Linked DNA regions of Homo sapiens. The protein of the gene in region 4 purifies or fractionates together with the protein of the main gene of each other region. This does not show direct contact. Each region holds a gene or a part of one and is shown on either strand. Other genes may lie near its edges.

The links.
Region 1: the proteins of SLC5A12 (region 4) and CORO1B purify together in Homo sapiens (affinity purification with mass spectrometry; one large-scale study listed by BioGRID and IntAct). This does not show direct contact.
Region 2: the proteins of SLC5A12 (region 4) and EARS2 purify together in Homo sapiens (affinity purification with mass spectrometry; one large-scale study listed by BioGRID and IntAct). This does not show direct contact.
Region 3: the proteins of SLC5A12 (region 4) and NUMB purify together in Homo sapiens (affinity purification with mass spectrometry; one large-scale study listed by BioGRID and IntAct). This does not show direct contact.
Region 5: the proteins of SLC5A12 (region 4) and PCYOX1 purify together in Homo sapiens (affinity purification with mass spectrometry; one large-scale study listed by BioGRID and IntAct). This does not show direct contact.
Region 6: the proteins of SLC5A12 (region 4) and NUMBL purify together in Homo sapiens (affinity purification with mass spectrometry; one large-scale study listed by BioGRID and IntAct). This does not show direct contact.
Region 7: the proteins of SLC5A12 (region 4) and ATP11C purify together in Homo sapiens (affinity purification with mass spectrometry; one large-scale study listed by BioGRID and IntAct). This does not show direct contact.

The regions. Positions count from the first base shown.
Region 1 is NC_000011.10:67,440,315-67,445,247, reverse strand, and holds the start of CORO1B (coronin-1B), read left to right. Parts: upstream 1-1,771; 5' UTR 1,772-1,844; intron 1,845-2,617; 5' UTR 2,618-2,619; coding exon 2,620-2,820; intron 2,821-3,159; coding exon 3,160-3,282; intron 3,283-3,385; coding exon 3,386-3,515; intron 3,516-3,733; coding exon 3,734-3,915; intron 3,916-4,003; coding exon 4,004-4,123; intron 4,124-4,808; coding exon 4,809-4,913; intron 4,914-4,933. UniProt on the Homo sapiens protein: Regulates leading edge dynamics and cell motility in fibroblasts. May be involved in cytokinesis and signal transduction.
Region 2 is NC_000016.10:23,520,254-23,524,014, reverse strand, and holds the end of EARS2 (nondiscriminating glutamyl-tRNA synthetase EARS2, mitochondrial), read left to right. Parts: 3' UTR 1-2,214; coding exon of another isoform or gene 2,215-2,222; 3' UTR 2,223-3,261; downstream 3,262-3,761. UniProt on the Homo sapiens protein: Non-discriminating glutamyl-tRNA synthetase that catalyzes aminoacylation of both mitochondrial tRNA(Glu) and tRNA(Gln) and participates in RNA aminoacylation for mitochondrial protein translation.
Region 3 is NC_000014.9:73,448,202-73,452,413, forward strand, and holds part of NUMB (protein numb homolog), read right to left. Parts: intron 1-4,212. UniProt on the Homo sapiens protein: Regulates clathrin-mediated receptor endocytosis. Plays a role in the process of neurogenesis.
Region 4 is NC_000011.10:26,676,743-26,680,954, forward strand, and holds part of SLC5A12 (sodium-coupled monocarboxylate transporter 2), read right to left. Parts: intron 2,074-4,212; coding exon 1,970-2,073; intron 1-1,969. UniProt on the Homo sapiens protein: Acts as an electroneutral and low-affinity sodium (Na(+))-dependent sodium-coupled solute transporter.
Region 5 is NC_000002.12:70,264,433-70,268,644, forward strand, and holds part of PCYOX1 (prenylcysteine oxidase 1 precursor), read left to right. Parts: intron 1-4,212. UniProt on the Homo sapiens protein: Prenylcysteine oxidase that cleaves the thioether bond of prenyl-L-cysteines, such as farnesylcysteine and geranylgeranylcysteine. Only active against free prenylcysteines and not prenylcysteine residues within prenylated proteins or peptides.
Region 6 is NC_000019.10:40,680,247-40,684,458, forward strand, and holds part of NUMBL (numb-like protein), read right to left. Parts: coding exon 4,171-4,212; intron 2,723-4,170; coding exon 2,648-2,722; intron 2,557-2,647; coding exon 2,482-2,556; intron 812-2,481; coding exon 671-811; intron 1-670. UniProt on the Homo sapiens protein: Plays a role in the process of neurogenesis. Required throughout embryonic neurogenesis to maintain neural progenitor cells, also called radial glial cells (RGCs), by allowing their daughter cells to choose progenitor over neuronal cell fate.
Region 7 is NC_000023.11:139,786,294-139,790,505, reverse strand, and holds part of ATP11C (phospholipid-transporting ATPase IG), read left to right. Parts: intron 1-1,017; coding exon 1,018-1,179; intron 1,180-2,162; coding exon 2,163-2,314; intron 2,315-3,261; coding exon 3,262-3,333; intron 3,334-4,212. UniProt on the Homo sapiens protein: Catalytic component of a P4-ATPase flippase complex which catalyzes the hydrolysis of ATP coupled to the transport of aminophospholipids, phosphatidylserines (PS) and phosphatidylethanolamines (PE), from the outer to the inner leaflet of the plasma membrane.

The DNA.
Region 1 (4,933 bases), about 41 Mb from region 4:
ACCTCTGCTCTTCCCCCGCTTCGTCCTCCATCCATCTCTTTCTGGGAAAGGGAGGGTGCCATCGGTCAGCCAGGGCAGTGGATGCTCAAGGAAAGAATAAGGGAAGTAGCCGGTGCCCCAGAGCCGCTGGCCTAAGGGAACGGGGGTACATTCCACCTGTGGAACGGGATGGGGTGGGTCTGGAGAGGCCAGTCTGGGCTCCTTGTCACAGGCGCTGGCTAGAGAAAGAGAGAGGCCTGTGAATGGATCTCCAGGCCTTCGAGGGAGATGGTGGAGAAAAGAAGGCAAGGTGCAAGGGACTCACTGGCCATGGCCCCCTTTCAAATTGTAATAAGAAAGCTCAGCAGAATGCACAGGTGTTTACCCTGAAAAATGGGACTCCTGGGTCTTCCACTCGCTCCATAAACACTGCTATTTTCTGGATGGGCACGGTGGCTCACAACTGTAATCCCAGCACTCTGGGAGGCTAAGGCAGGAGGATTGCTTGAGCCCGGGAGTTCAAGAGCAGCCTGGCCAACATGGTGAAACCCTATCTCTACTAAAAATACAAAAAAAATAGCAGGGTATGGTAGCAGGCACCTGTAATCCCAGCGAATTGGGAGGCTGAGGCAGGAGAATTGCTTGAACACGGGAGGCAGAAGTTGCAGTGAGCCGAGATCGCGCCATTGCACTATAGGCTGGGAGACAGAGCGAGACTCCATCTCAAAACAAAACAAAAAACACACCAGCCTGGGCGACAGAGCAAGAGACCCCATCTCTACAAAAAGTAAAAGAAAAATTAGCCAGGCGTGGTGGTGTGTGTCTGTAGTCCCAGCTACTTGGGAGGCTGAGGCAGGAGGATCCCTTGAGCCTAGGAGGTCGAGCCTGTAGTGAGCCATGATCATGGCACTACATTCTAGCCCGGTAGTGACAGACCTTGCCTCAAAAAAAAAAAAAAAAACCACCCCAACACCTGCTGTTGTTTTCTTTACATTGTTAACCAAGAGCATGAAATTTAGGCCGGGCATGGTGTCTCACGCCTGTAATCCCAGCACTTTGGGAGGCCGAGGCGGGCGGATCACGAGGTCGGGAAATCGAGACCATCCTGGCTAACATGGTGAAACCCCGTCTCTACTAAACATACAAAAAATTAGCCGGGCGTGGTAGTATAAGCCTGTAGTCCCAGCTACTGGGGTGAATTTCTTGAACCTGGGAGGGCGGAGGTTGCAGTGGGCCGAGATCGCGCCACTGCACTCCAGCCTGGGTGACAAAAACTCCGTCTCAAAAAAAAAAAAAAAAAAAAAAAAAGAGCATTAACTTTGATAACTTAAAAAGAGTCACGTGAACATATCCACTGTCCGTGTAGATTCTACATTTATTTGTTGGGGGCGGTAATGGGGCCCCTTGGAGGTGTGCGTTCCGTCGGGGGCCGGGAAGGCGGGGCCTCACCCAATCCTGGAGACTCCTGCGGATGCCATTATGAGGAGCAAGAACGCGAAGGGGCCTCGGGTCCGCTGTAAGGCTGCACCCGCACCTGCGGCGCCTCTGCGGCGGCCGCCGTCGGCCCTGCCCCGCCCCGCCCCCTTCTTCCGGAGGAGCTGCGGTGGGGGCGCTCCACCGGGTCCTAGGAAAGGGGCTCTCTCTGGCCCCGTCCCCGGCGGCCCCGCTCCCGGCCCCCCGGCGCCGCTCAGCCTCCCGCCCAGCCCCTCCGCGCGTGACCTCGGCCCCGCCCCCGCGAGCCCCTGCCCCGCCCCCGCTCCGGGTCCCTCTGTCACTTCCTGAATCCTGCTTCCTGCTTCCCAGAGGCCGGGATCCGGAGCCGCCCGAAGCCGGTGCCGCAGCCCCCTGCGCCCCCGGTGCCCCCGGTGAGCGCGGCAGGGCCGGGGCTAGGGGCGCGGGCTGGGGGCTGGGCGGGGCTGCAGGGGCCGGGCTGAGGGGGCTGAGGGGGGATCGCGGGTCCCAGGAGCCTTTCGCCTCCCCTCTACCCCACTCAGTCCCACTCCCCTTGGCCGCCCAGCCTCTCCTCTCCTGGGCGGAGGTCCCTGGAAGTTGGGCTCCTGGTTCACCCTGGACCCCGATTCGAGGCCGCTCTGGGTTGCTTCGCGGCCCACAGCTGCGTCCCGACCCCGTCCCTTCCTGGGGGCCATGCCGGGGCTCCCTGGACATTCCCTGGGACTCAGAACTGGGCACTCACTCGGCCCCACAGTAGAGAGACTTTTCCTGCTTCCTCTCTCCTTCTTCCCCATTACCTAGCCTCCAAATCTCTGGGAGCAGGAAGGAGGCTGCTCCCGACTGGCTGGGACCTACAGTAGAGCTGAGAGCTCTCCAACCCCGGCACCTCCCACCTCCTGCCCCCGACACACACCAGAGCCAGGGAGGGGCCCTGCGTCCTGCAAAGCCCCTCAGGACTCAGCAGTGGTCAGGGCCGGAGCATTTACCTCTCAGATCACTGCCTGCGGGGTGACAGGCGGCCAGGCTCTGCACCTGTGACCCCATTCTGTAACTGGGTAAACCGAGACCCAGGAGGGTTACGGTGGCCTGGCCCCCGGTTGCATCCTCCCGGCTCACCTTCAGCAGCCTGGGGAGGGCTGGAGTTGTTGGGATGGGCCGGACTGACCCAGGCCTCTCTGTCCCGCAGACATGTCCTTCCGCAAAGTGGTCCGGCAGAGCAAATTCCGGCATGTGTTCGGGCAGCCGGTCAAGAACGACCAGTGCTATGAGGACATTCGCGTGTCCCGTGTTACCTGGGACAGCACCTTCTGCGCCGTCAACCCCAAGTTCCTGGCGGTGATTGTGGAGGCCAGTGGAGGGGGTGCCTTTCTGGTGCTCCCCCTAAGCAAGGTGGGTCCTGTCAGGGTTGGGGGAAGAGGAGGCACCTCGGCCACCCCTACTGGGCCTTTCTGCACACCTTGAATCCCTCATCTTGCCGTTTCTCACACTGCTGGGCAGGTGTTATAACCCAGATTTATCGCCCCAAGTGTTAGCACAGATGGAAAGTAGCCTGTTGCCATAGAGGCAGGGTTAGAGGCAGCAAACATTTCCTGCTCACCTGGCAAGTGGGGCACAGTCACATCTGGGCCACCTGTGAGCCGGGACGTGCATGTCATTCCCACTCCATGGAGGGGAAGACCAAGGCTTCGGGAGGGATGGAGCCCACTGACTGCCCCCTCGTGCCCACAGACGGGCCGCATTGACAAGGCCTACCCGACGGTGTGTGGGCACACGGGACCTGTCCTGGACATCGACTGGTGTCCTCACAACGACGAAGTCATAGCCAGCGGCTCGGAGGACTGCACGGTCATGGTGAGGCACAGGACTGGCTGGGCCAGGGTCGTGGGTGTGGCCGAAGGGGGCCAGCAATAGGACCAGCAGAGGACTGAGCTCGGTGGCCCTGTCCCTACCACAGGTGTGGCAGATCCCAGAGAACGGGCTGACCTCCCCGCTGACAGAGCCGGTGGTGGTACTGGAGGGGCACACCAAGCGAGTGGGCATCATCGCCTGGCACCCCACGGCCCGAAACGTGCTGCTCAGTGCAGGTCTGCACCGCCCCCCGTTTTGTGCTCCCCCCCCCCACGGACCCCTCCATACATCCCAGCAGCCCCTCCAGGGCCCACATGACAAATGGGAAAGCTGAGGCCCTCAGAGTTGGAGAGACCCGTCTGTCCCAGGGTGGTGGGCAGAGTGGGCCTCAGCCTGGTGAGCTAATGGCCTCCTGCCACCCACCCGGCCCGAGCTGACAACCCTCACCTGCCAGGCTGCGACAACGTGGTACTCATCTGGAATGTGGGCACAGCGGAGGAGCTGTACCGCCTGGACAGCCTGCACCCTGACCTCATCTACAATGTCAGCTGGAACCACAATGGCAGCCTGTTTTGCTCAGCATGCAAGGACAAGAGCGTGCGCATCATCGACCCCCGTCGGGGCACCCTGGTGGCAGTACGTGGCTCTGGAGGGCAAGGATGGCTGTGGATAGGCCCAGGACCTTGAGCAGGGCGCTGCACTGACCAGCCTGTCCCCCCGACAGGAGCGGGAGAAGGCTCATGAGGGGGCCCGGCCCATGCGGGCCATCTTCCTGGCAGATGGCAAGGTGTTCACCACAGGCTTCAGCCGAATGAGCGAGCGGCAGCTGGCGCTCTGGGACCCAGTGAGTGGCCAGCCTGAGGGGGCAAACTTGAGACTTGGGCCCCACCCTGGGCCAGGCAGGCAGGGTTCACCCTGGGGAGGCCTGTGGTTCCTAGCTTCTCTGCCTGGAACTTGAGGCTCTCAGGGCCTAGGACTCTGTCAGACTTTCCTCTCCTGCCCCCTGCTCGCCCGACTGCCCCACCACTCCCCCATGGCCTCCCACTGCCTCTGTGTCTTTGCCCATGTTGTTCATGCCAACGGAAGGGCCCTTCTCTCCCTTGCTTGCCTGTACCACCCACTGCCTGCACAGGGCTCCCCGCTCCTCCAGAAAGCCTCCTCCTCCAGCAAGCCTCCTGGCCCCAGCCCTCTCTGCTTCTGCATAGTGACCTCCAGGGCACCTTGAGCAGGGGCTGGTGCCGCTGGCACCCCAGCTCCCCACAGTGAGGTATGTTTCAGCACTTGCTTAGTGGCCTGGGCATAGTCTTAAGGCCTGGAGGAGGCTGGAAAAGAGGGACCCTGGGAATAAAGTGAAGCCAGGAGGGCCAGGTGGGGGTCGTCATGTGGGAAAAGGCATAGAGATGGCAGAGGGCCCACCTGCATTTAGGGGCAGTGCTGGCTGGCCTTAGTGAGGCCAGCTAAGGCCCGTCCTGGTTTGGGATTAGGGGGTGAGGAGGTTCTGCTTGGCCTGACTGCCTGCAATGTGCCAGGAAAACCTCGAGGAACCCATGGCCCTGCAGGAACTGGACTCGAGCAACGGGGCCCTGCTGCCCTTCTACGACCCCGACACCAGTGTGGTCTACGTCTGCGGCAAGGTGGGGCTGGGCAGGGCTGG
Region 2 (3,761 bases), on a different chromosome or scaffold from region 4:
CACAGAACCAGGTGGTTTAAACAACAGAGATTTATTTTCTCACATTTGGAGGCTAGAAGTTCAAGATCAAGGTGTCAGCAGGCCTGGTTTTTCCTAGAGGCCTCTTTTGTTGGCTTGCAGACAGCTGTCTTCTCACTGTGTCCTTGTGCGGTCTTCCCTCCATGCACACACATCTCTAAGTTTCATTATGTGCCCAACGTTCCTCTTCTAAGAACACCAGTTGGACTGGATTTTAACTTTAACCAGCCTCATTTAAGTTAATCACCTCTTTAAATGCTCAATCTCCAAGTACAGTCTCATTCTGAGGTTCCAGGGGTTTCTCAACGTAAGAATTTAGGGGGACAGAATTCAGCCCGTAGCAGCTGGGCAGCAGGACTCATGGGTCCCAGTTCTCAGGCCCCAAGGACTCAGAGCAGCAAAGGATACGTGACACAAGCAGGGCTGAACTGGACACCAGACTTTCTTTGGGGTTGTAAAAGGAGAAGTGTGACTCCACTGCCAAGGGTAAGCACTCTTGTCTTATGCTACCCTTTATTCTTGAACCTTGGGGCAGCCTGTGTCTCCCTTCCCTAAACGTCATCTGTTCCGTTTTTCCAGTCTTCCAGACCTGGTCCTTGGACTGGAGACCTTCACCCTTCCTATTTTGTGGCTTTCTCTTCAAATCCACCTCGTCCTTCCTCCATGACTTATAAGTCATCATCTCTGCTGGTTTCTGAAATGAGATATGCTTCTTGGGGTCTTCAGTGAAGAGGAATAGCAAGTGAAAGGAGGATGGTGGCAGGGTACATGAACCCCTACCAGGCTTCTAGGCTTCCCCTGCATGGCAGCCAGCCTCTAAGTTGGCCCCCAACCATCCCTGCCTTCTTCTATTCACACCCTTGTGTGGTTCCTTCCCACATTGAATAGGCCTGACTTGTGTAACCACTACACTATTGAAGAAATGAGAGTTTGACTTCTGAGGGTAAGTCATAAAATACATCGTGGCTTCTGTCTTGTTTTCTTTGATCGCTTACTTTGGGGGAAGCCAGCTTCCAGGTCATGAAAATACTCAAGCAGCCTTATGGAGTGCTCCACATGACAAGGGATCGAGGCCTCCCACCAATAGCCATGGGAGTGTGCAATCTTGAAAGCTGGTCCTTCAATTCCAGCCAAGCATTCACATGACCGCAATCCTAGCTGATCTCGCTTGTGACCTCTATGGGAGACCCTAAGCCAGAACCACTCAGAGAAGCTGCTCCGGAACGTCAGACACACATGAACTGTGAGATAGTAAACGTTTATTGTTTAAAGCTACTTGGTTTGGGGATAATTTGCGTTTCAGCAGTAGACAATATATTTATTTTGTCCAGGGGAGTGGAAAGGCGATTACAGAGTTTGTTGAGCCCCATAGAGTCCTAGTCTTTGCTTAAAGAAATATACCAGTTCTTTCTAATACAGAATCCATTAAGTTCGTTGGTTGCAAACAATAGAAACCAACTCTGCCTCACTTATGTTTATTGGAGGCCATAAGAGAGCCACAGCATCTACCAAAAAGCCAAAAAAAAAACAGGTTTTGGAAAAGACAGGAACTAGCTACAGGAGCTAATGGCCAATCTTGTCTGAGTTCTTTGATGGCGACACATGAACTACAGCCGTTTTGTTGTTGTTAATTTCTCCGTGTTTTCCCCTCAGTTTTGGATGACTCTGCTCAAGGTTCAGATTCTGAGGAGCAAGTATCTGTTGGGCTATCTGAGGTCCTGCTACCATTCCTTGGCCAGTAATAGGTAGTTTCACAGGGATTATATGCAATGGAGGAAAAGTTGTTCTCAAGGAAAACTAGGGAGCTTTCTCCAGAAGATGATGTAATGGCAGAAACAACAGGTGGTTGACCACAGAAGGGGACAATAATAATACTTGTAATTTATTGTGCGCTTATATGAGCCTCACCCTCTCCCAGGTGTCAGATAATGCTCGTAAATGCCTTAGTCCATCATCTCAGTAAATTTTTTTTATAACACTATGAGAGAAGCAGTATTTTTTTTTTCTGTTACAGATATGGAAACCGAGGTTCTGAAAAGTTAACTAAAACTTCCGAGGTTATAGTACGAGGCAAAACCAAGATTTAAACTCAGATCTGTGCCGATCCAGAGTCCAAGCTTAACTCTGATCTACTGAGTGTTGTCAGAGCATCTGTTTCTAAGACATTAAGAATGGTTAAAAGGAGCTTCTTGGCTCATGGTCAAGTGAGTGTTTTTAACAAAGTGAGTGGTCAAAATACTAAGTCGATTCTGGTATATCTACAACATGGATGAACCTCTAGGACTTCATGCTAAATGAAATGTCAGTCACAAAAGGACAAATACGTCCTAATGCTTTGTGAGGCAAAGGTGGTAGGCTTGTCAAAGGCCAGGAGTTTGGAGACCAGCCTGGGCAACATAGTGAGATCCTGTCTCTACAAAAAATTTAAAAATTAGCCAGGTGAGGTGACATATGCCTGTAGTCCCAGCTACTTGGGAGACTAAGGTAGGAGGATCACTTGAGCTGAGGCGTTAAGGCTGCAGTGAGCTATGAATGCACTACTGCACTCTAACCTGGGCAACAGAGCAAGATCCTGTGTCTAAAAAAAAAAAAATGAATAAAATAAAGTTAAAAGGATAGATACTGTAAGATTCTACTTATTTGAATTACTTAAAATAATCAAAATTATACAGGCAGAAAATAAGATGGTGGTTGTCAGACTTGGGGAGGCAGAAATGGGAAGTTACTGTTTAGGGTATAGAGTTTCAGTTTTGCAAGATGTAGTTACAGGGGTCAATGGTGGTGATAATTGCACAACATTATAAAGATACGTAATGCCGCTGAACTGTATATTTAAAAATGACTGAGATGGTAAATTTTATATTTTTCTGTATTTTACCACAGTTTTTAAAAAATACTAAATTAGAGCTGGGCCTGGTGGCTCACACCTAGAATCCCAACATTTTGGGAGGCCAAGGCAGGCAGATCACTTGAGGCCGGGAGTTCAAGACCAGCCTGGCCAACATGGTGAAACCCCATCTCTACTAAAAGTACAAAAATTAGCCAGGTGTGGTGGTACATACCTATAATCCCAGCTACTTGGGTGGCTGAGGCACAGGAATTACTTGAACCCCCACAGAACGGGAGGTTGCAGTGAGCCAAGATCACACCATTGTACTCCAGCCTGGGGAACAGAGCGACACTCTGTCTCAACAAGAAATTAATAAAAAAGCGAAATTAATAAAGCTGTTGCTACTTCCTCAAGTGAAGTGTGCTGTGCTATCTTGAAAGCAGCTCCAGACGTCTGTCTTCTGTTTGAGGGTTTTGCTCAGGATCAGTAAGACTTTTTTTTTTTTTTTTAAGAGGATGTTGCTCTGTTGCCTGCCCAGACTGGAGTGCAGTGGCACAATTATATTTCACTGTAGCTCTAACTCCTGGGCTCAAGAGATCCTCCTATCTCAGCCTCTTGAGTAGCTGGAATCACAGGTGCATGCCACCACACCTGGCTAAGTAAAAGTGTTTGAAGGAATTTCATACATTTTAAATAACCTCAAGCCCATCCCCAGTGTTTTGAGGGTATAGTGCAGCAGTGAAGGGCACAGAGGCTGTCTAGATTCAGAAACATTCTGCCCCTTATTCACATGTGACTTTCTGTACCTCAATTTTCTTGTTTGTAAAATAGGAATAAGAATTGTACCCATCTCAAAGAGTTGTAAGGATTGGAATAGATAACATATACGAAGTTCTTTTTTTTTTTTTTTTTT
Region 3 (4,212 bases), on a different chromosome or scaffold from region 4:
GATAATTTTCAAAAACAAGAATGAATCAACTCTTTAAAATAATAATTCAAAATTATGTTCACTGATGAGATTTGAAGTCTATTACATCATGAATGTGATGGAAATTGTACACCTTTCATCAGAGACAATAAATAATATAGCTTTTAACAGCTTTATTTTTTTTAATTTATAATAGAGATAGGGTCTTGCTACGTTGCCCAGGCTTTTATCAAAACCCTAGGCTCCAGCAATTCTCCCTCCTTGGCTCCCAAAGTGCTGGGATTAAAGGCATGAGCCACCACACCAGGCCAGATTTTAACAGCTTTCTACAAATACAGATTTTTCTTTCATTTGACCAAATCCTTATCTAAGGAAGATACAGGGCTTAAATTCTGAAATAAAAACTATTTCTACTTGAATTGCGAAGATAAATATATTAACTCCAGGGAAAAATAAGCTGGTTCTAACTGGCATTTAGAACTAATTTAAAATCATTAACAATATCAGTAAATAAAATAATTCAATAAAAGCAATGATTTTAATAACAAAATCAGTAAATAATATAATGCTCAATTGTTTTTTTCTAGTAGTAGGATTAATGGTTTCCACTGTTGTCAAAAACTCACATGTATTTGGAAGAGGACCAGGTACAGTCACATCTTGGTATCTGAGGGGGACTCGATCCAGGACCCCATGGATACCAAAATCTGCAGATATCCCAGTTCCTTATGTATAATGGCATAGTACAGTCGGTCCTCTGTATCCATGGGTCCCACACAGGAGGATTCAACCAATCTTGCATCAAATATATTCGGAAAAAAAAATGGATGGTTGTAATGAACATGTACCTACTTTTCTTTCTTGTCATTATACCCTAAACAATACAGTATAACTATGTACATAACATTTATATCATATTAGGTTGGTGTAAAAGTAATTGTGTTTTTGCTATTACTTTTAATGGCAAAAGCTGTAATTACTTTTGCACCAACCTAATATTAAGTATTATAATTAATCTAGAGAAATAATTCAAAGTATACGGGAGAATGTGTGCAGGTTATATGTAAATACTACACCATCTTATATAAGTGACCTGTGCATCTATGGATTTTGGTATATTGGGGTCCTGGAATCAATCCCCCACTGATACCTGTATTTGCATATAACCTGCACACATTCTCCCATATATGTTATATAATCTCTAGATTACTTATTAATATAATACCTAATACAATGTAAAAGCTATGTAAATACTTATACTGTATTTATTCGTATTATTTGTATTGTTTTATTTTTTATTGGGTTTTCTTTCCAAATATTTTCTATCAACTGCTGGTTGAATCCAAGGATGCAGAATACACAGATAAGGGCTGACTATAATATGATAGATAAACAGCCTGTGACCACACAACAAAATATTAGCTTCATTTACCCCATGTTTCAGTCTAATACACCAAAATAAACCAACCACAAAAACAAACTGAAGTAGTAAATGTTTAAAATATATGTAATGTTTTGGTGTTTGTTTTTTGATACAGAGTCACACTCTGTCGCCCAGGCTGGAGTGCAGTGGCTCGGCTCACTGCAACCTCTGCCTCCCAAGTTCAAGCAATTCTCCTGCCTCAGCCTCCTGAGTAGCTGGGATTACAGGCATGCACCACTACTCCCAGCTAATTTTTGTATTTTTAGTAGACACGGGCTTTCGCCATGTTGGCCAGGCTGGTCTCGAACTCCTGACCTCAGGTGATCCGCCCACTTTGGCCTCCCAAAGTGCTGGGATTACAGATGTGAGCCACCGCGCCCAGCCTTAAAATACCTGTAATGTTTTAAAGTCGACTCTGGTTTTCCTAGCTGCCACAATGCTTACAATAACAGTATCTGGAATATTAGCCCATCCTAAAAGAGAAGTCTATAATAGATCTAATGTGATAATTATTAATAATTAACAATTACAATTTGTTAAGTGCCCACTATGGGCAAAATGCTATACACTACACAAAATGCTTTTCATTTAATTCTCACCATCACCCTGATGTGGAGGATAGCATAAGCTCCATTTTATGGATGACGAAACTGAATCTAAAAGAAGTTTAATAAACTGCTCAATTAGTAAATTAACGATAAAGTCAAGATTCAAAATCATGGTCACACAATTATAATGAATTTTGTCCATTCTGTCATGCTGCCTCTGGACATAAATGATGCTCTTTCAATTTCATAACATGGCAGTCACAAATATATTTCTGTCATCAGCAGGCTATTCTATGGTTCTGTGAGATACTAGTTTGGAGGAAAAAAAAGTTTTATCTTGATTAAAGAATACTGGGAGCTAGGCTGGGCGCAGTGGCTCACGCCTGTAATCCCAACACTTTGGGAGGCCAAGGCAGGTGGATTACTTGAGGTCAGGAGTTTGAGATCAGCCTGGCCAATATGGCGGAACCCTGTTTCTACTAAAAATACAAAAATTAGCCGGGCGTGGTGGCACACGCCTGTAATCCCAGCTACTCGGAAGGCAGGATAATCGCTTGAACCTGATAGGCGGAGGTTGCAGTGAGCCGAGATCGTGCCACAGCACTCCAGCCTGGAAGACAGAGCGAGACCCCATCTTAAAAAAAAAAACAAAACAGAATACTGGGAGTTAAAACTTCTTATAACAAAGTCGCTTATATTAAAAGAAATTAAGTAAATAAACCAAACGCAGTGACTCACGCCTGTAATCCCAGCACTTTGGGAGGCCGAGGCAGGAGGATCACTTGAGGCCAGGAGTTCAAGACTAGCCTGAGCAACACGGTGAAATCCCGTCTCTACTAAAAATACAAAAAAGTTAGCTGGGCATGCTAGTTGGCACCTGTAATCCCAGCTACTTGAGAGGCTGAGGCAGGAGAATTGCTTGAACCCAGGAGGCGGAGGTTGCAGTAAGCCAAGATTGCACCATTGCACTCTATCCTGGGCGACAGAGCAGGACTCTGTCTCAAAAAAAAAAAAAAAAAAAAACAAAAAACAAATCTACACTTCGGGAGGCTGAGGCAGGCAGATCACGAGGTCAGGAGTTCAATACCAGCCTGGCCAATATGGTGAAACCCCATCTCTACTAAAAATACAAAAAACTAGCCAGGTGTGGTGGCGTGTGCCTGTAGTCCCAGCTATTCGGGAGGCTAAAGCAGGAGAATTACTTGAACCCACAAGGCGGAGGTTGCAGTGAGCCAAGATTGAGCCACTGCACTCCAGCCTGGGCAACAGAGGAGACACCGTCTAAAAAAAAAAAAAAAAAACCTACAACAAAAATTAGCCAGGCATAGTGGCATGCCCCTGTAGTCCCAGCTACTCGGTAGCCTGACGCAGGACAATTGCTTGAACCTGGGAGGTGGAGATTTCAGTGAGCCGAGATTGTGCCACTGCACTCCAGCCTGGGCATCTTTAAATAAAATAAATTAAGTAAATAAACCTTCACAAATTATCTACATGATAAAATCAAAATGTACCTGAGATGTACATATGCACAAGTGACTAGACGAAAGTATCACTATTACTTTTCCAAAGTCAAAGGTAACCAAGGCCAATCTTAAATAAAGTTACAAATTTAGCTGATTTCTGTGTCCCTGGTTGCCCCAGCTTTGCCTTTATTCAGAGCTAAGCAGTATTCTACAGTTTTTCCCTCTTCTTCCCTAATTAAACTAGAAATGTTCCAAATTAACTATAATTCACCTTAATATAATCAAGTTACCATAATTAAGATTTTGCTGTCCTACTCAGGTAATTGAAGACTTTGATCTTGGTTAAAAGAACGTAAGATAGCCTGAGCACGGTAGCTCATGCCTGTAATCCCAACACTTTGGGAGGACTGCCTGAGTTTAGGAGTTTAACAAGACCCTGTCTCTACCCCCCAAAAAAAAAACTGGCCAGGCGTGGTGGCTCACGCCTGGAATCCCAGAACTTTGGGAGGCCAGGGTGGATGGATCACCTGAGACCAGGAGTTCAAGACCAGCCTGACCAAAATGGTGAAACCTCATCTCTACTAAAAATGCAAAAATTAGCGGGGTGTGGTAGTGCACACCTGTAATCCCAGCTACTAGGGAGGATGAGGCAGGAGAATCACCTGAACCCAGGAAGTGGAGGTTGCGGTGAGCTAAAATTGTGCCATTGTACTCCAGCCTGGGCAACGAGAACGAAACTCTGTCTCAAAAACAAAACAAAACAAAACAAAACTGGGCAGCCTGTAGTCCCAGCAACTGG
Region 4 (4,212 bases):
GCCAAGATCTTTCAGCAGCTGATGCACAAAATGATTAATGATATAAACTTCCTGGAGTTGCTAATCAACACAGACATGATTCTATGTGTCAACATGTATGAGTAACATAAACAGCATATCTTCGAGGTGCCGTATTTTATCTGGAAGAAGTATAATTGAAGACATCACCTATTAAGACCAAACAAGACCAAGATAAAATATGACACAAGGAGAACAGGCCCACAAAAGGCCTCTGTCCTTCCTTACTGACCCTATTCTACATTTAAACATTGTAAGACTTTTTAAAAGATTCAGTGGGTATTACAGAAGATTTGTTAAAGCCTCTTAGTGAGCAGACCTGAGGTTATCAGGCTAGCCCTAAGGCCTCATTTGGAAGACAGGGACCAGGAGGCAAGAACATCTGGTGGTCATGTTCAAAAATTTTTCCAAATGTTTGAAGGCATAATTAGACTTTGTTAGAGTGTTCGCTTTTGGCCTGAAGGGCATTTGACTAAGACCTGGCTTATTTGGAGAAAAAGAAAACAAAGGGATTAATACTGGAAGAGTTATTCATGCTGAAAATGTGTAAGAATTTTCAATCAAATTTAATATAAGTGCTGCTGTATCAACATAAGAGCATGCTAATTCTGGTGCACACATGGAAAATATGGACTGGCAAACTACTGGATTTCATGTGTACACATTTCCTGATTTAGAAGGAAATGTTCAGGCAGCTGAAATCTTGGTTGTCTTCTTAGTGGTGACCGATCACTAAACTGAAATGTCTAGGTATATCCCACTAGCATCAAGGAAGGAGTTACAGATGTCAGGGTACTAAGGCAAAATCTAAACAAAATGAATAAACAATCTTTTGCCTGAAACCATTTACATAAAGACATTGAGAGAGTTGTTATTATGTGAAAGACTGGGGTTACAAGATTTATAGTCTATTCTTTATCATAGCCAAGATCTTCTTAAATTTCAGTGAATGGCTAGTGACATCATGCACAGAACAATAGGGCATTGGAGCTTCAATATAACATCTCTAGTACACAGTCACCAGAAATGTTGCCATTCAGGTTTTGTGTTGAGTCAGAATGTTGGCCATTGTTCATTGGTATATAATAGTCATGGAAAAATAGAATACCTTAAAATTTTTTAGCTAAAATACATACTCCAAGGAGGTGGAGGGACAAGAGTACAGTGAACTTATTCCACCCCATTATCTCCCACACTCTCACCACTACCAACCCCTCATGGGCTTTGAAACAAAAAGGACATTAATACATCAAAAGGGCAAGTATGGATGGTAGACACTTTGCTAAAAATGGCTTACAGTGAAGCTGCTCACTGCAGAGAACTCCACGACCCTAGAGAAGCAGCCTCCAAAGGACAACATAGGCAAAAACAACAGTGTTTTGCTTTTCTAGTAAGTTAGCAAAGGCTGACTTCATGAGATAGTAAGATGGTGATGACAAAAATCTTGTCTCTTACTGGGATGAAGGGAAAAGAACCACTCTGAATATTTAACCTTATTTACTGATTGTTATATTACAGAGGGTTTTTCATACTCAGGCCTCTGGGGGGCATGTGTCAAAGCATCTTTTTTTAAATAATATATGGGAAATGTTTGAATATATGTTTTTTTGTTTGGTTGGGGTTTTTTTTGGTTTTTTGAGACGGAGCCTTGCTCTGTTGCCCAAGCTGGAGTGCAATGGCACCATCTCAGCTCACTGCAACCTCCACCTTCTGGGTTCAAGCGATTCTCCTGCCTCAGCCTCCCGTGAATATATGTTTTATATATTAATAGTCAGGTATATAATAATGAAGGGTGCCTTTGTATGTCAGCGTTGAGAGAGTAGACATCTCTGTGGGAAGAAGGGTTTTTGTGGGAAACGTGAATTCAAAGCAATAAGACAGACAGCCAGTCCACCAATGCATGCATGAGCCCATATCTTCTTTAGTCCCAAAGGGAGGAATTATAACCAACCTGTTATGAGGCTGATGATTACTCCAGCAACAATGCATCCTAAGCAGCCCACTGCACTGTAGTAAAGGTAGGAGATCGAGTACCAGGTATCAGCTATTCCAGGTCTGTGGAGAACAGCACATGTCACCAATTCCATGCATCCTAAAGACCCACAGTGATGTAGAGGACTGCTCAGGATTCATTTTAGGGCCTGGCATCTCAAAAGCCTAAATCATAACTTTTTGTCATTTAAAAAATTATATTTAGAGAAGATGTGCTTTGTATTCCACTCAATTCAATTCATTCCTGAATTACAAATATAACGATGTTGATACTGAATCATAAGTATTACAATGAGGATTGTGTCTTAATACAAATAATACAATTTCATTTGTATTATTTATTCTTCAGACTTTTATTAAGCCCAGATTTAGTGCTAGTAATTGTGACAAGCATTAGTGATATAAAGATGAGAAAGTCACAAAGTCTACATACAGGAGCTAATAGACAATCATAAAATGGGTTGGTTTTGCCTCAGTAGAAAAGGTATAAAATACTATGGCAGCCTTCAGAGTAGTATCAAATTCAGACCAATGCGTGAGATGATACCTCAGCTCATTTTGAAAGAATAATTAGTAGTTAATCAAGCAAAGAGGGTAGTCAGGGCCAGGAATTAGCATTCTAAGAAGAGAATACAGTAAGTATAGGCAGGAGGGAAGAATCAACATGGTTTATGGGGAACCATGAATAGGTTGAAATTCTTCGATATAAAATTTATGGAAAGAAAATGAAACTCAAAGACAAATGGAAGCAAAATAATGGAGTGCCCATTTGGAACCTGAGTCAAAATGAACTTTATGGAGGAATAGGAGACACTAGTATGGCTCTTGAAAGATAAACAGATTTTAGGAGAGTGGAAATGAACACTAAAATATATTCATGTAAAGGGAATAGCTTAAGGACCCAAATGTAGGAAAGAGTGGGATAAGCATAGGTAGACGAGAAGAAACAGAATTCAGAGTAGAAGGAAAACAATAGTTAATAACATTAAAACCACAGGAAAGTTTTAAGTTTGGCAGGTATTTAGCTCCAGGATAAAAAGGTTGTGTTTTATTCCATAAGCACATGAATCATTTAAGTCATCTCCATGTGGTAGTAATGAGTTCAGAAAGGTGCTTCAGAAAAAATAAATCTAGTGATGCTTGGATAGAATGGGTTGTATTAGAAAGGAAAAGAGATAGAAAAATGGAGGAAATAAAAAATACAAATAAGATAATTTCACTTTTCTGGACTTTGTAAAGACAAGACTAGCCTCAAGATTGACAAGGACAATGGAGAGGAGAAGATATGCCGGACCGAGAGAGACTTTCATGAATGCAATTTGCCACATTATCTGGCCAGTTTGAGAAGCCTGGACTCAGAGGGAATGAGCCAGTATGGGGAGATATTGATGATAATCAGAAAAGGGCTACTAAAAATGAAGTACTTTTGAGGATACACAAATAACACAAATCCTATATTTTCTAGACTTGCTCTTACATACAATTAGAATGTGAGAGTGAACATTTATTAAAGTCACGTGTAGTGCTACTTTATATATATGTATATATATTCATATATATATATGTATATATATTCATATATATATGTATATATATTCATATATATATGTATATATATTCATATATATATGTATATATATTCATATATATATATATATTTCCTCATTTTTCCATCAAGGGCTCTGAGAATTCAAGAAGTTACAACTTACTAACTTGTCCAAAGATACAGAGGGAATAAATTATAAAACCAAAATCCAAACCCAAATATTTCAGATTTCAAAGTCCACAATCGTCTCTCTACACCATAGTATCTGATGTATTTTGATATATTTGATCACTTACCCCAGCCAGAAGTACAAAGGGAAATCCTTTGTTAAACCCTGTGTTCATATTGTTTGGTTTAGAAGCCATAGGTTCACAGCGGTGCTCCTAACTCAGCTTGCCCATAAGCATTATCCTCATTGCTCACAAACTTCTTCTACTGAGTTTTATTCTTTGAGGAAACCATGTTCCTCATACCCAGTCACCTGTCTTTGAACCCTCCACTATTTTTTCTCTTTTGTACTCATATCTCGCATTAACTCTTTCACCAAATTGGTTTTTGTATGTCTGAATACAGAGGAATGGACATCTGCAGAAAGCTGCAGCCCTGCGTGGCACTCTTCAGTGCTGGGTACTTCCCTGAGTGAGTCTCATAAGAGA
Region 5 (4,212 bases), on a different chromosome or scaffold from region 4:
TCTCCTGCCTCAGCCTCCTGAGTAGCTGGGATTACAGGCATGTGCCACCATACCCAGATAATTTTTTTATTTTTAGTAGAGATGGGGTTTTACCATGTTGGCTAGGCTGGTCTCAAACTCCTGGCCTTAATTGATCTGCCCGCCTTGGCCTCCTAAAGTGCTGCGATTACAGGCATGAGCCACCGCACCTGGCCTAAGAAATCACTTTTGAAGTGAATTCAAGGTATTACAGAACTGGGAAAAAGAACCAGTGAGGGGATACATAGGTTATACTGTTTTTGACTTTAAAAAATAATTTACGGGCCGGGCGCGGTGGCACACGCCTGTAATCCCAGCACTTTGGGAGGCCAAGGCAGATAGATCTTGAGGTCAGGAGTTCGAGACCAGCCTGGCCAACATGGTGAAACTCCGCCTTGCTAAAAATACAAAAATTAGCTGGGTGTGGAGGCGCAGCTAATGCCAGCTACTTGGGAGGCTGAGGCAGTAGAATCGCTTGAACCCAGGAAGCGGAGGTTGTGGTGAGCCAAGATCAAAGTATACACAAGGTGGAGAAAGACCTATGTAACAGTAGTAAACCATGACACTCGAAAGAGGGCTCAAGCTTGTGGTAGGCAATACTCGAAAACAGTGCATTCATTCATTCTCTGCTGTTGGAGGTACTTGAGTGGAAATCCTGCAGCCCCTGACATCAGCACTAGCTAGCTTAATTTCCACTTCTGCACATACATTTATGTAGTTGTTCTGGTTGGATGCCATTCTTAACTAATTTTTTTTTTTTTTTTTTTTTTGAGACCAAGTCTTGCTCCGTCACCCAGGCTGGAGTACGGTGGTGCAATCACAGCTCACTGCAGCTTTGACCTCCTGGTCTCAAGTCATCTTCCAGCCTCAGCTGGGACTATAGGCATGTGCCATCATGCTTGGCTAATTTTTTAAATTTTTGTAGAGACAGGGTGTTGCCATGTTGCCCAAGCTGATCTTGAACTCCTGGGCTCAAGTGATCCTCCCACCTTGGCCTCCCAAAGTGTTGGGATTACAGGCGTGAGCCACCGCGCTCAGCCGGATGCCATTCTTTACTCCCAAGTCCAACCTCTTATCTCACTTTTTCAGCAAAGCATTTCCTTAATGCTTCAATCAACATTCATCTTTCTTTTCAAACATCCCTTATTATACGGTGCACACTGTGTGCTTGTGTTCTATGCTACGCACAGTAACTAGAATGTAGTAGATGTTTACTCAGATGTTTGTGGAATTTAAATCTCTGGTCTGCTGATGGCTTCCTGTTGAGATATCTTGGCTTGTAGACTAGGTTAAAGCTTATTCTTCTCTCTCAAGTTAGTGCATTTCTGGGGACTTGTAAGATCCTTAACACTTCTTGATCTGAGACTGATAGACTCACAGGGAAAGGCTTTATAAACACCCTTTCTTCCTTCCAGTTACTCCTACCAAATATTTTGAGTCAATTTTTGTTCTTTCATTTCCCAAACCCACTCTATCTTGAATCCCATCAGCCTTTAAAATACATCCAGTATTCCACTACTTCTCTCCAGGATTACTGCTACCACTTTGTTCCAAGTCACCACCACTGTCTCTTGTCTGGATTGCTAGAGTAGCCTCCTATTATAGGCTGAATAATCCTCTCCCCTGCTGTCTGCCACAAGATGTCCATGTCTTAATTCCTGGAACCTGTGAATGTGTTACCTTTTGAGGTAAAAGAGACGTTGCAGATATGGTTAAGGATGGGTAGATTATTCTGGATTATCTAGGTGGGCCCAATATAATCACAAGGGTCCTTAGAGAGGCAGGAGGATCAGGGTAGGTAGTAGGAGATGTGATGATGGAAGGAAGAGATTGGAGTGATGCTAGGAAGGGGTGTGCGTCCACGAGCCAAGGAATGCAGGTGGCCTGTAGAGGCTGGAAAAGACAGTCTTCCCTCAGAGCTTCTAGAAGGAACCAGCCTTGTGCACACCTTGATTTTAGCCCGGAGAGACTGACTTTGGTCTTCTAATTTACAGAACCGTAAGATTATAACTTTTTTTTTTTTTGTTAGTATTTATTAATCATTCTTGGGTGTTCTTCGGAGAGGGGGATTTGGCAGGGTCATAGGACAATAGTGGAGGGAAGGTCAGCGGATAAACATGTGAACAAAGGTCTCTGGTTTTCCTAGGCAGAGGGCCCTGCCGCCTTCCGCAGTGTTTGTGTCCCTGGGTACTTGAGATTAGGGAGTGGTGATGACTCTTAACGAGTATGCTGCCTTCAAGCATCTGTTTAACAAAGCACATCTTGCACCGCCCTTAATCCATTTAACCCTTAGTGGACACAGCACATGTTTCAGAGAGCATGGGGTTGGGGGTAAGGTCATAGATAAACAGCATTCCAAGGCAGAAGAATTTCTCTTACTACAGAACAAAATGGAGTCTCCTATGTCCACCTCTTTCTACACAGACACAGTAACAATCCGATCTCTCCTTCCTTTCCCCACATTTCCCCCACTTCTATTCGACAAAACTGCCATCGTCATCATGGCCCGTTCTCAATGAGCTATTGGGTACACCTCCCAGACGGGGTGGCGGCTGGGCAGAGGGGCTCCTCACTTCCCAGACAGGGCGGCTGCTGGGCGGAGGGGCTCCTCACTTCTCAGAGAGGGCGGCTGGTCAGAGAGGCTCCTCACCTCCCAGACGGGATGGCGGCGGGGCAGAGACACTCCTCAGTTCCCAGACGGCGTCGCGGCCGGGCAGAGGCGCTCTTCACATCTCAGACGGGGCGGCGGGGCAGAGGCGCTCCCCACATCCCAGACGATGGGCAGCCGGGCAGAGACGCTCCTCACTTCCTAGACGGGATGACGGCCGGGAAGAGGCGCTCCTCACTTCCCAGACTGGGCGGCCGGGCAGAGGAGTTCCTCACATCCCAGACGATGGGCGGCCAGGCAAAGACACTCCTCACTTCCTAGACGGGGTGGCGGCTGGGCAGAGGCTGCAATCTCAGCACTTTTGGGAGGTCAAGGCAGGCGGCTGGGAGGTGGAGGTTGTAGCGAGCCGAGATCACGCCACTGCACTCCAGCCTGGGCAACATTGAGCACTGAGTGAGCGACACTCCGTCTGCAATCCTGGCACCTCGGGAGGCCGAGGCTGGCAGATCACTCATGGTCAGGAACTGGAGACCAGCCCGGCCAACACGGTGAAACCCCGTCTCCACCAAAAAATACGAAAACCAGTCAGGCGTGGCGGCGCGCGCCTGCAATCCCAGGCACTTGGCAGGCTGAAGCAGGAGAATCAGGCAGGGAGGTTGCAGTGAGTCGAGATGGCAGCAGTACAGTCCAGCCTTGGCTCGGCATCAGAGGGAGACCGTGGAGAGGGAGAGGGGGAGGGGGAGGGGGAGAGGGAGAGCTGTTTTTTGTTTTGAGACAGAGTCTTGCTCTGTCACCCAGGCTGGAGTGCAGTGGCACAATCTTGGCTCACTGCAGCCTCCGCCTCCTGGGTTCAAGCAGTTCTCTGCCTCAGCCTCCCGAGTAGTTGGGATCACAGGCGCCCACCACCATGCCCGGCTAATTTTTGTATTTTTAGTAGAGATGGGGTTTCACCATCTTGGCCAGGCAGGTCTTGCACTCCTGACCTCGTGATCCACCCGCCTCAGCCTCCCAAAGTGCTGGGATTACAGGTGTGAGCCACTGCACCCGGCCGTAAATTTGTGTTGTTTTAAGCCACTAAGTTTGTGGTAATTTGTTATAGCAGCAGTGGAAAACCAAGACACCTCCTAAATCATCTGCCATTACTGTTATATTGCTACCATTTGTTCTCAGGTTAGCAGCCAAAGTAGTTCTTTAAAATCTAAGGCTCATCACATCACTCCACTAACTCAGAAACCTTCAGTGGCTATTTCATTAATAGAGATTTATAGCCAAAATCTGTTTTGTGACTGAGAAGACATGACAGGATTCTGTGCTCTCATCCCTTACTTTTAAATTTGTTTTCCCCAAAATTCATAGGTTGAAACACTAGCCACCCAGTACTCAGAATGTGACTGCATATGTATGTAGGGCCTTTAAATATGTGATTAAGTTAAAATGAGGTCTTTAGCGTAGACCCTAAAACAATTTGATGGGTGTCCTTAAGATTAGGACACAGAAAGGAGGCCAAGGCGGGCAGATCACCTGAGGTTGGGAGTTCGAGACCAGCCTGACCAACATGGTGAAACCCCTTCTCTACTAAAAATACA
Region 6 (4,212 bases), on a different chromosome or scaffold from region 4:
ATGTGATTCTCCTACCTCAGCCTCTGGAGTAGCTGGGATCACAGGCGCCTGCCACCATGCCTGTCTACTTTTTTTGTATTTTTAGTAGAGATGGGGTTTTACCAGGTTGGCCAGGCTGGTCTCAAATTCCTGACCTCAGGTGATCTGCCTGCCTTGGCCTCCCAAAGTGTTGGGATTACAGGCGTGAGCCACCACGCCTGGCCAATACTCTTTTTTTTTTGAGATGGAGTCTCACTCTGTCTCCCAGGCTGGAGTGCAGTGGTGCAATTTTGGCTCACTGCAACCTCCACCTCCCGGGCTCAAGTGATTCTCCTGCCTCAGCCTCCCAAGTAGCTGGGACTACAGGTGTGCACCACCACACCTAGCTAATTTTTTGTATTTCAGTAGAGATGGGGTTTTACCATGTTGTCCAGGGTGGTCTTGAACTCCTGAGCTCAGGCAATCCCCCCGCCCCAGCATCCCAAAGTGCTGGGATTACAGGTGTGAGCCACTGCACCCGGCCCTCACGTGAATACTCTAAATTGGGAACCGTGAGTATACTTTCTTCTCCAGATGAGGAAACTGGGCACACAGAGGTTAGTGATGTGCCTGAATGCAGGAAGCTTGTAGGGGTGGGGCTGGGATGCCAGGGCATGGGAGGGAAGAGTTGGCCAGCTGTGGCAATACTCACGGAGTCCTTCAGTGCCAGAAAACAGTGGCAGATCCAGCGGCGGGTAGTCCCGTCACGACAGATATAGGAGAAAGCCTTGTCCAGGTTGCGGTCAGGAGCACAAAAGGAGACCTTTTCGATGGTCTGGTCGACCAGAAGATCCTAGGAGGGGCCGGGGAGGCCAGGAGAAGAGTGTGAACTCTCTTTCAAGTGTTCACTCAACATTCTCTCTGTGTCTGCTGAAATCCAGTCCTGAACAGGGTGGGGACCCAGCAGTCACTGAGACACCCTGTGCCTTGCCTGCAGAGGGCTCCCAGGTCAGCGGGAAGATCAGACCCATCACGAGATGGGCAGCCCAGAGTCATAGCCAGGATGTGATGAAGGAGGCCCAGGCAGAGGGGTCAGGGCCAGGACCATGGAGGCACAGGCAGAGGGGTCAGGGCCAGCATGGCAGAAGCCAGCTTGGGGTCAGTCAGGCAAGGCTTCCTGGAGCAGGTACTAACTAAGAAAAAAAGTCAAGGAACAGTATTTTGGGCTGAGGGAACTGCCTTGCAAAGGTGGTGATCTTGTTCTGTTATTAACCCAACTCTCAGCATGTCCTGGGCACCTCCTAGGGCAGTCTCTGGGCTGGGGGCAGCAGATTCAAGGTGAGCAAACAGATACCTAGATTGTGGCCTCATAGTGCTTCCTTCTGACTGGGCAGGGTGACAATAAACACTTAATGGCTAACATTCATTGATCTGAGCAGTTACGATGTACTAGACCCCATTTAAATATATATATATATTTTTTTCCCAGAAGGAGTCTTGCTCTGTCACCCAGGCTAGAGTGCAGTGGCATGATCTTGGCTTACTGAAACCTCTGCCTCCTGGGTTCAAGTGATTCTCCTACCTAAGCCTCCCAAGTAGCTGGGATTACAGGCACGCACCACCACGTCTGGCTAATTTTTGTATTTTTAGTAGAGGTGGGGTTTCACCATCTTGGCCAGGCTAGTCTCGAACTCGTGACCTCAGGTGATCCAACTGCCCTGGCCTCCCAAAGTGCTGGGATTACAGGCGTGAGCCACCGTGCCCAGCCCACATTTAAATTTTTTTAAAAATTATTTTGTATAGATGGAGCCTTGCTATGTTTCACAGGCTGATCTTGAACTCCTGGCTTCAAGGGGCCCTCCCAGCCAGGCACCATTTCAAATAACTTGCATATGCTTTCTCACTTAATGGTAGGGTCTATTATAATCCCTGTTTTTCTGCGATGGAGTTTAGCTCTTGTTGCCCAGGCTGGAGTGCAATGGCATGATCTCCGCTCACCGCAACCTCCAAGTCTCGGGTTCAAGAGATTCTCCTGCCTCAGCCTCCCAAGTAGCTAGGATTACAGGTACACACCACCATGTCCAGCTAATTTTTGTATTTTTAGTGAGATGAGGTTTCACCATATTGCCAGGCTGGTCTCGAACTCCTGACCTCAGGTAATCTACCCTCCTTGGCCTCCCAAAGTACTGGGATTACAGGCGTGAGCCACCACTCCCGGCCTATAATCTGCATTTTTCAGATGACACAACTGAGACTCAGAGAGGTTAAATCTCATGCCCAGGGTCCCTAAGCTGGGATCGGAGCTGAGGCAGCTGCTCCAGTCTCTCTCACCCACAGCCTATGCCAGTTCCCAAATAATCACAGCATTTATTCCTGAGTTATGACGACAGAGGGAGCACACGGCATCGTCTAGAAGGTCCCTGAGGGAGGGATGTGCAGAGGAGGCGGGAAGGTGTCCTCCGCCCTGATTCCAGCAGGGTGAGCAGACAGGCCCCCTGGCGTCCACCCCCACAGGCCTCCTACCTTGGTTTTGTCGTCCACCACTCGGAGCCCATCGGCTGACACCCACAGGACAGACTTCACGGACTTTCGGCCCATCTGGAGGGAGGCAAGGGGACAAAGGAGCCGGGTCAGGGTGCCTCTCCCTGTCTGACCTTGCCCCCTCCCTCATGGCAGCCCCCTCACTCACCGCCTTCAGCTTCTTCACCGCATCTTCACACACGTGCATTCCCCGGGACTCCTCTACCTCCACGTGACCCAGGTACTTGGGTTGGAGGGAATGGGGGGGGGGACATGAAACAGCACAGTAATCACTCATTCTCAGTGTCCACTGAGCATCTGCCATGCAGTAGACAATATTTTAAGCACATGATGTGTATGCAATCATTTATTCTGCATCTCAACTCTACAAGGTGGAGACCCCATTCCTGGTCTAGACATGCAGATGGGGAAACTGAAGCACAGCACGTAGTAGTGATTCCAGTCTAGCTATACCCCTGGGCCCTAACCCGGCACCGTGGTCCTCCCGAGAGCTAGTATTTGCATCTCTGTGCGTGAGGACTGGCCACAGGCCATGCAAAGCTGCTTTGCCTACCCTAAAGCAGCTAGAAAGAGCCTGGGCCAGTCCCCACAATGACTGAAGGGAGTTAGGGTACCTGAGCCCCAGCTCCCTCATCTGCAGGTGGGATGACTGTTGCCTCGAGTTTCCCAGGGGAAAGCTCAGTTGCACACTGCTGCAGTTTTAATAACACACCCTTTACTGGCTGCCTTACTTTCCTCACTCCCAACACCATTTCCTGCACCTCCCAAATGAAGCCGTCACATTCAAAGTCTGCTTCCAGGGAAGGGAACGTAAGGTGGTGGAGGGGCTGTGACCATGGTCAGTCATCACCCAGCCAGGAAGGGGCTGAGCTCCACAGTCCACGCCGTGAATCCTGCTCTCCCCCTCACAGGAATGTAAAAGCGTAGGGTATGGCTAAACCAGAACGTCCTTATCGGTAGAGCGCTTTGCAAATGCTACACCACATGACGGCTTCCAGGTAATAGTTTGCTGGTACAAAAAAATGTGTTCTGGTTTTTTGTTTGTTTTCAAGATTGGGTATCACTCTGTTGCCTAGGCTGGAGTGCAATGGCACAATTAAGGCTCACTGCAGCCTCGACCTTCCTGGACTCGAGTGAGCCTCCCACCTCAGCCTTGTGAGTAGCTGGGACTACAGGTGCGTGCCACTGTGCCTATTTTTTGTAGAGACAGGGTCTCCCTGTGTTTGCCCAGGCTGGTCTTGAACTCCTTGACTCAAGCAATCCTCCCACCACAGCCTCCCAGTGTGCTGGAATTACAGGTGTTAGCCACCACTACGCTTCAAGTTTTTTTTTTTTTTTTTTTGAAACAGAGTCTGCTCTGTCGCCCAGGCTGGAGTGCAATGGCGCTATCTCGGCTCACTGCAATCTCCGCCTCCCGGGTTCAAGCGATTCTCCTGTCTCAGCCTCCCCAGTAGCTGGGACTACAGGCGCCCGCCACCACGCGAGGCTAATTTGTTGTATTTCTAGTAGAGCCGGGGTTTCACCGTGATAGCCAGGACTGCCGGCCTCACGCTTTTTAACACCAACTTCAAACGACTTGGGCTGGTGTCCCAGCCAGGCCGCGCACCCGCACAGCACAGCACAGCGGCCCCCGTCCCCCTCGCCCCGCCGCACCCTGCCGCGCCCACTCACCCTGACCGGGAAGCTGCACGTGCCCTTCCGCACCGCGTCCTC
Region 7 (4,212 bases), on a different chromosome or scaffold from region 4:
GTGTAAGAGTGTGTGTGTGTGTGTGTGTGTGTGTGTGTGTGAGTGAGAGAGAGAGAGAGAAATAAGTGGTCAGTATAGTCTTACTTCCCACTTGAAAAATTGACTTATGTAACTTCTTTACATCAAACAGGTTAACTGGCTGGGCATGGTGGCTCATGCCTATAATCCCAACACTTTGGGAGGCCAAGGCTTGAGCCCAGGAGTATGGGACCAGCCTGGGCAACATAGTGAGATGCTGTCTCTACAAAAATTACAGAATAATTAGCCTGGTGTGGTGGTGCGTGCCTGTGGTCCCAGCTACTTGGGAGGCTGAGGTGGGAGGATTGCTTGAGCCAAGAAGTTTGAGGTTATAGTGAGCTATAATGGCTACTGCATTCCAGCCTGAGTGACAGAGTGAGACCCTATCTTAAAAAAGGTTAACTTAAATGAGAAGCGTTCTTAGTTTGATAAAATAGTCACTTTTTTTTTTTTTTCCTGAGACAGAGTCTCACTCTATCACCCAGGTTGGAGTATAGTGATGTGATCTCAGCTCACTGCAACCTTTGTCTCCTGGATTCAAGCAATTCTTGTGCCTCAGCCTCCCAAGTAGCTGGGATTTCAGGTGTGTGCCACCACACCCAGCTAATTTTTGTATTTCTAGTAGAGACGGGGTTTCACCATGTTGGCCAGGCTGGTCTTGAACTCCTGAGCTCAAGCAATCCTCCTGCCTCAGCCTCCCAAAGTGCTGGGACTACAGGCATAAGCCACCGTGCCTGGCCAATAGTCACATTTTTTTCTATTCATCTTTTACATTTGAGTAGATCTACCTTAGACATGTGATAGCATTTTGGTGTCTTTAAAAATACTCATTTATTCCTCATTTCTTTGGTAATATTGTCTCTGTAATTCCCTGACATTTGACAAGAAGTCTTAGAAGGGGTGATTTCCTATGGATATGAAAATAGCTTTGCGTTACAGCAAACTAAAAATTAGTCACACTGAAGAAACTAACAATATATGTTTGTGTCCTTGTTTTAGGTGGATTATGTATTTACAGATAAGACTGGAACACTCACTGAAAACAGCATGGAATTCATTGAATGCTGCATAGATGGCCACAAATATAAAGGTGTAACTCAAGAGGTTGATGGATTATCTCAAACTGATGGAACTTTAACATATTTTGACAAAGTAGATAAGGTGCATTTGCATTATTGTTTTATATAAGAAACCAATCTGTGTATGCATGTTAACATTCCATAGTAGAAAATAATTTTTAGGTGGACACATGACATAGACTTTTGTGTTTTTGTTTTTTTTTTTTGAGATGGAGTCTCACTCTGTTGCCCAGGCTGGAGTACGGTGGCATGATCTCAGCTCACTGCAACCTCCGCTTCCCAGGTTCAAGCGATTCTCCTGCCTCAGCCTCCCGAGTAGCTGGGATTACAGGCGCCTGCCACCATGCCTGGCTAATTTTTTTGTATTTTTAGTAGAAACGGAGTTTCACCATGTTGGTCAGGCTGGTCTCAAACTCCTGACCTCAGGTAATCCACCACCCTCCGTCCCCCAAAGTGCTGGGATTACAGGCATGAGCCACTGTGCCCAGTGACTTTAGAATAACTATTGTTGGATTCACCTTTCTTGTTTTACTGACACTTCTGAAATTTGTAAATGAGTAGAATTTACAAGTAAAGAGAATTGTGGGAAATGACATTTGGGTAAAAGCTTGCTTGTCTGTATGATCATAATTTTTTGTGCTTTGTCTTTTAAAATGTAAGCTCCTCCAAGAATGATGTCTGTTCAAATGATTAAAGTCTCAGGAGTGTCTAGGCATTAAATTAACCAGAGTCTCCCTACACTTGAGCTATTGCTAGATTGTGAATTAGATACTGAATGAAGTTTTTTAGGCCATGAAGAAGTCACTGCTTTGGCTTAGGTGGTGCCACAATAACCTTAATGAGTTAACACAGCCTATAGGGTATGCTAGCTGAGAACCAGGAACTCTTATTAGGTACTAGGAGAATATATAGCAGATTTGAGTGTTAAGAATTTATACGTATCTGCTACTAAGTTTGTTAGAAGTTACAACATTCTCTCACATTAATATATTTTCTCCGTTCACTGCCTAGTTACCGGGTGATCAAATTAAAAATAATAATCATTATTTTGTTGCTGTTCCACAGAATCGAGAAGAGCTGTTTCTACGTGCCTTGTGTTTATGTCATACTGTAGAAATCAAAACAAACGATGCTGTTGATGGAGCTACAGAATCAGCTGAATTAACCTATATCTCCTCTTCACCAGATGAAATAGCTTTGGTGAAAGGAGCTAAAAGGTAAAGTATACTTTCTTATACTTCTCCTAAGAAAGTGAAATCACAGGAGGACAGAAGTTATTTGTTTTTTTCCGTTTGCTTCAGTGACCTTAGCACATACATCTCCTATTATTTAATAAAAAACACAACTGCTTTAGCCAAAAATTTGTGGAAAATTCCCACACCTAACCAGTTAAGACTAAAAAGAAAATAGTTACAGGTAGGTATTACTTGCCTTACTATTTATGCATGCCAGCCAGAAGTCTGAATGTTCATACTATGTTTTGCAAATAACATAACAGTGGCCACTTTTTGTACAACACATGTTATTTCTGAGGTGCTCCCAGCAATTTTGACATCATTTGAGAACCGAAAGTCCAGTTTTACCCATGAGGTTCAAGATAATTAAGTGGCTCAAAGGTCACCCAGTGTGTTAGCCGTAGAATCAGAAACCCAAATTGTCTCTCCCTTGGTTACAATAATTGTGGCTGGGCATTGACTTTCTCTGTTATCAACTTATCCAGGAAAAGAAAGTACAGTTATATGTTGAGATCATATGAAAGAGAAGAAAAGCATAAACAAGCATGAGTTACCCCATTGAAAGTAATCATTCTAGACCAGGTGCGGTGGCTCACGCCTGTAATCCCAGCACTTTGGGAGGCCAAGGCGGGTGGATCACCTGAGGTCAGGAGTTCAAGACCAGCCTGGCCAACATGGTGAAACTCTGTCTCTACTAAAAATACAAAAATCAGCCGGGTGTGGTGACACACACCTGTAATCTCAGCTACTCAGGAGGTTGAGGCAGGAGAATCGCTTGAAACTGGGAGGTGAAGGTTGCAGTGAGCCGAGATCGCGCCACTGCACTCCAGCCTGGGCAACAGAGCGAGACTCTGTCTCAAAAAAAATAATAATAAAAAAATTAATCATTCTTTAGAGATACACAAGGTCTTTTTTATTGTTTTTGATAGGTACGGGTTCACATTTTTAGGAAATCGAAATGGATATATGAGAGTAGAGAACCAAAGAAAAGAAATAGAAGAGTAAGTAGCTCTGTGTTTGATGTTTGTCATTTCTTAACCCCATAGTCAAATTTAAGTGGATTCAGGCAGGGCAGCAAAGGAAATGATGCCACTAAAAATACAGGACCCTGCTCTCCCAGTTCAGAGTTTTATGTAAATATAGTTGGGGTAGAAGCCATGTTACATAGAATTGCAGAAACTGGAGTTTGAGGTGGAAATTCCAATCTGGTTCACATCTGGGTCCAGTAGCCAGAATGAGAGTTTGCCTGGAATGTTTCTCAAATTTAGATGCCATTTCAGGTCTCTAACACATGCTACAGGAAAAATCAGTGAATATATGTGAAACCTTCTGCTATCTAGTGTCCAAGCAATCACTCTGGGATTGCAAGCCCAGGCAATAAAGGCAGCTTTGCTGTAAACCAGAAGCCTTGTTTGGTTCGGAATGTTCAGGTGTGAGCCTCGGGGCAAGTACTCTGATGCTCCAGTGTCTTCACATTTCCTCTTTTGCCACAAAGACCCTAATGAACAAAGCCACCTTATCTTAATGGTGGATTTTAATTAGGCTCTGTGATTAATTTGAATTTCCTCATCTGAACTTGAAATATAATTATGTTATCTGACTTTCATTCTGGCCCCTAGGATCTCCTGAGACCCATCTCAGAAACCTGTAATATGTTTACAGGTACTTGGGTAATGCACCCTTTTGGAGAGAGATTCATAGAAGCCCAGAGGAAGGTTCTTGGTCTGACTGACAGGGACCCAGGGTCATTGTCAGAGTTTAGATTCTAGCCCATCTGCAACAGTGCCCACATCTGGCCAACAGCAAACCAGATGCCATGTTAGATGTCTTATACATATACTCCCGCAAGACTAATGACCCCCTCACTCCCACCAAAACAA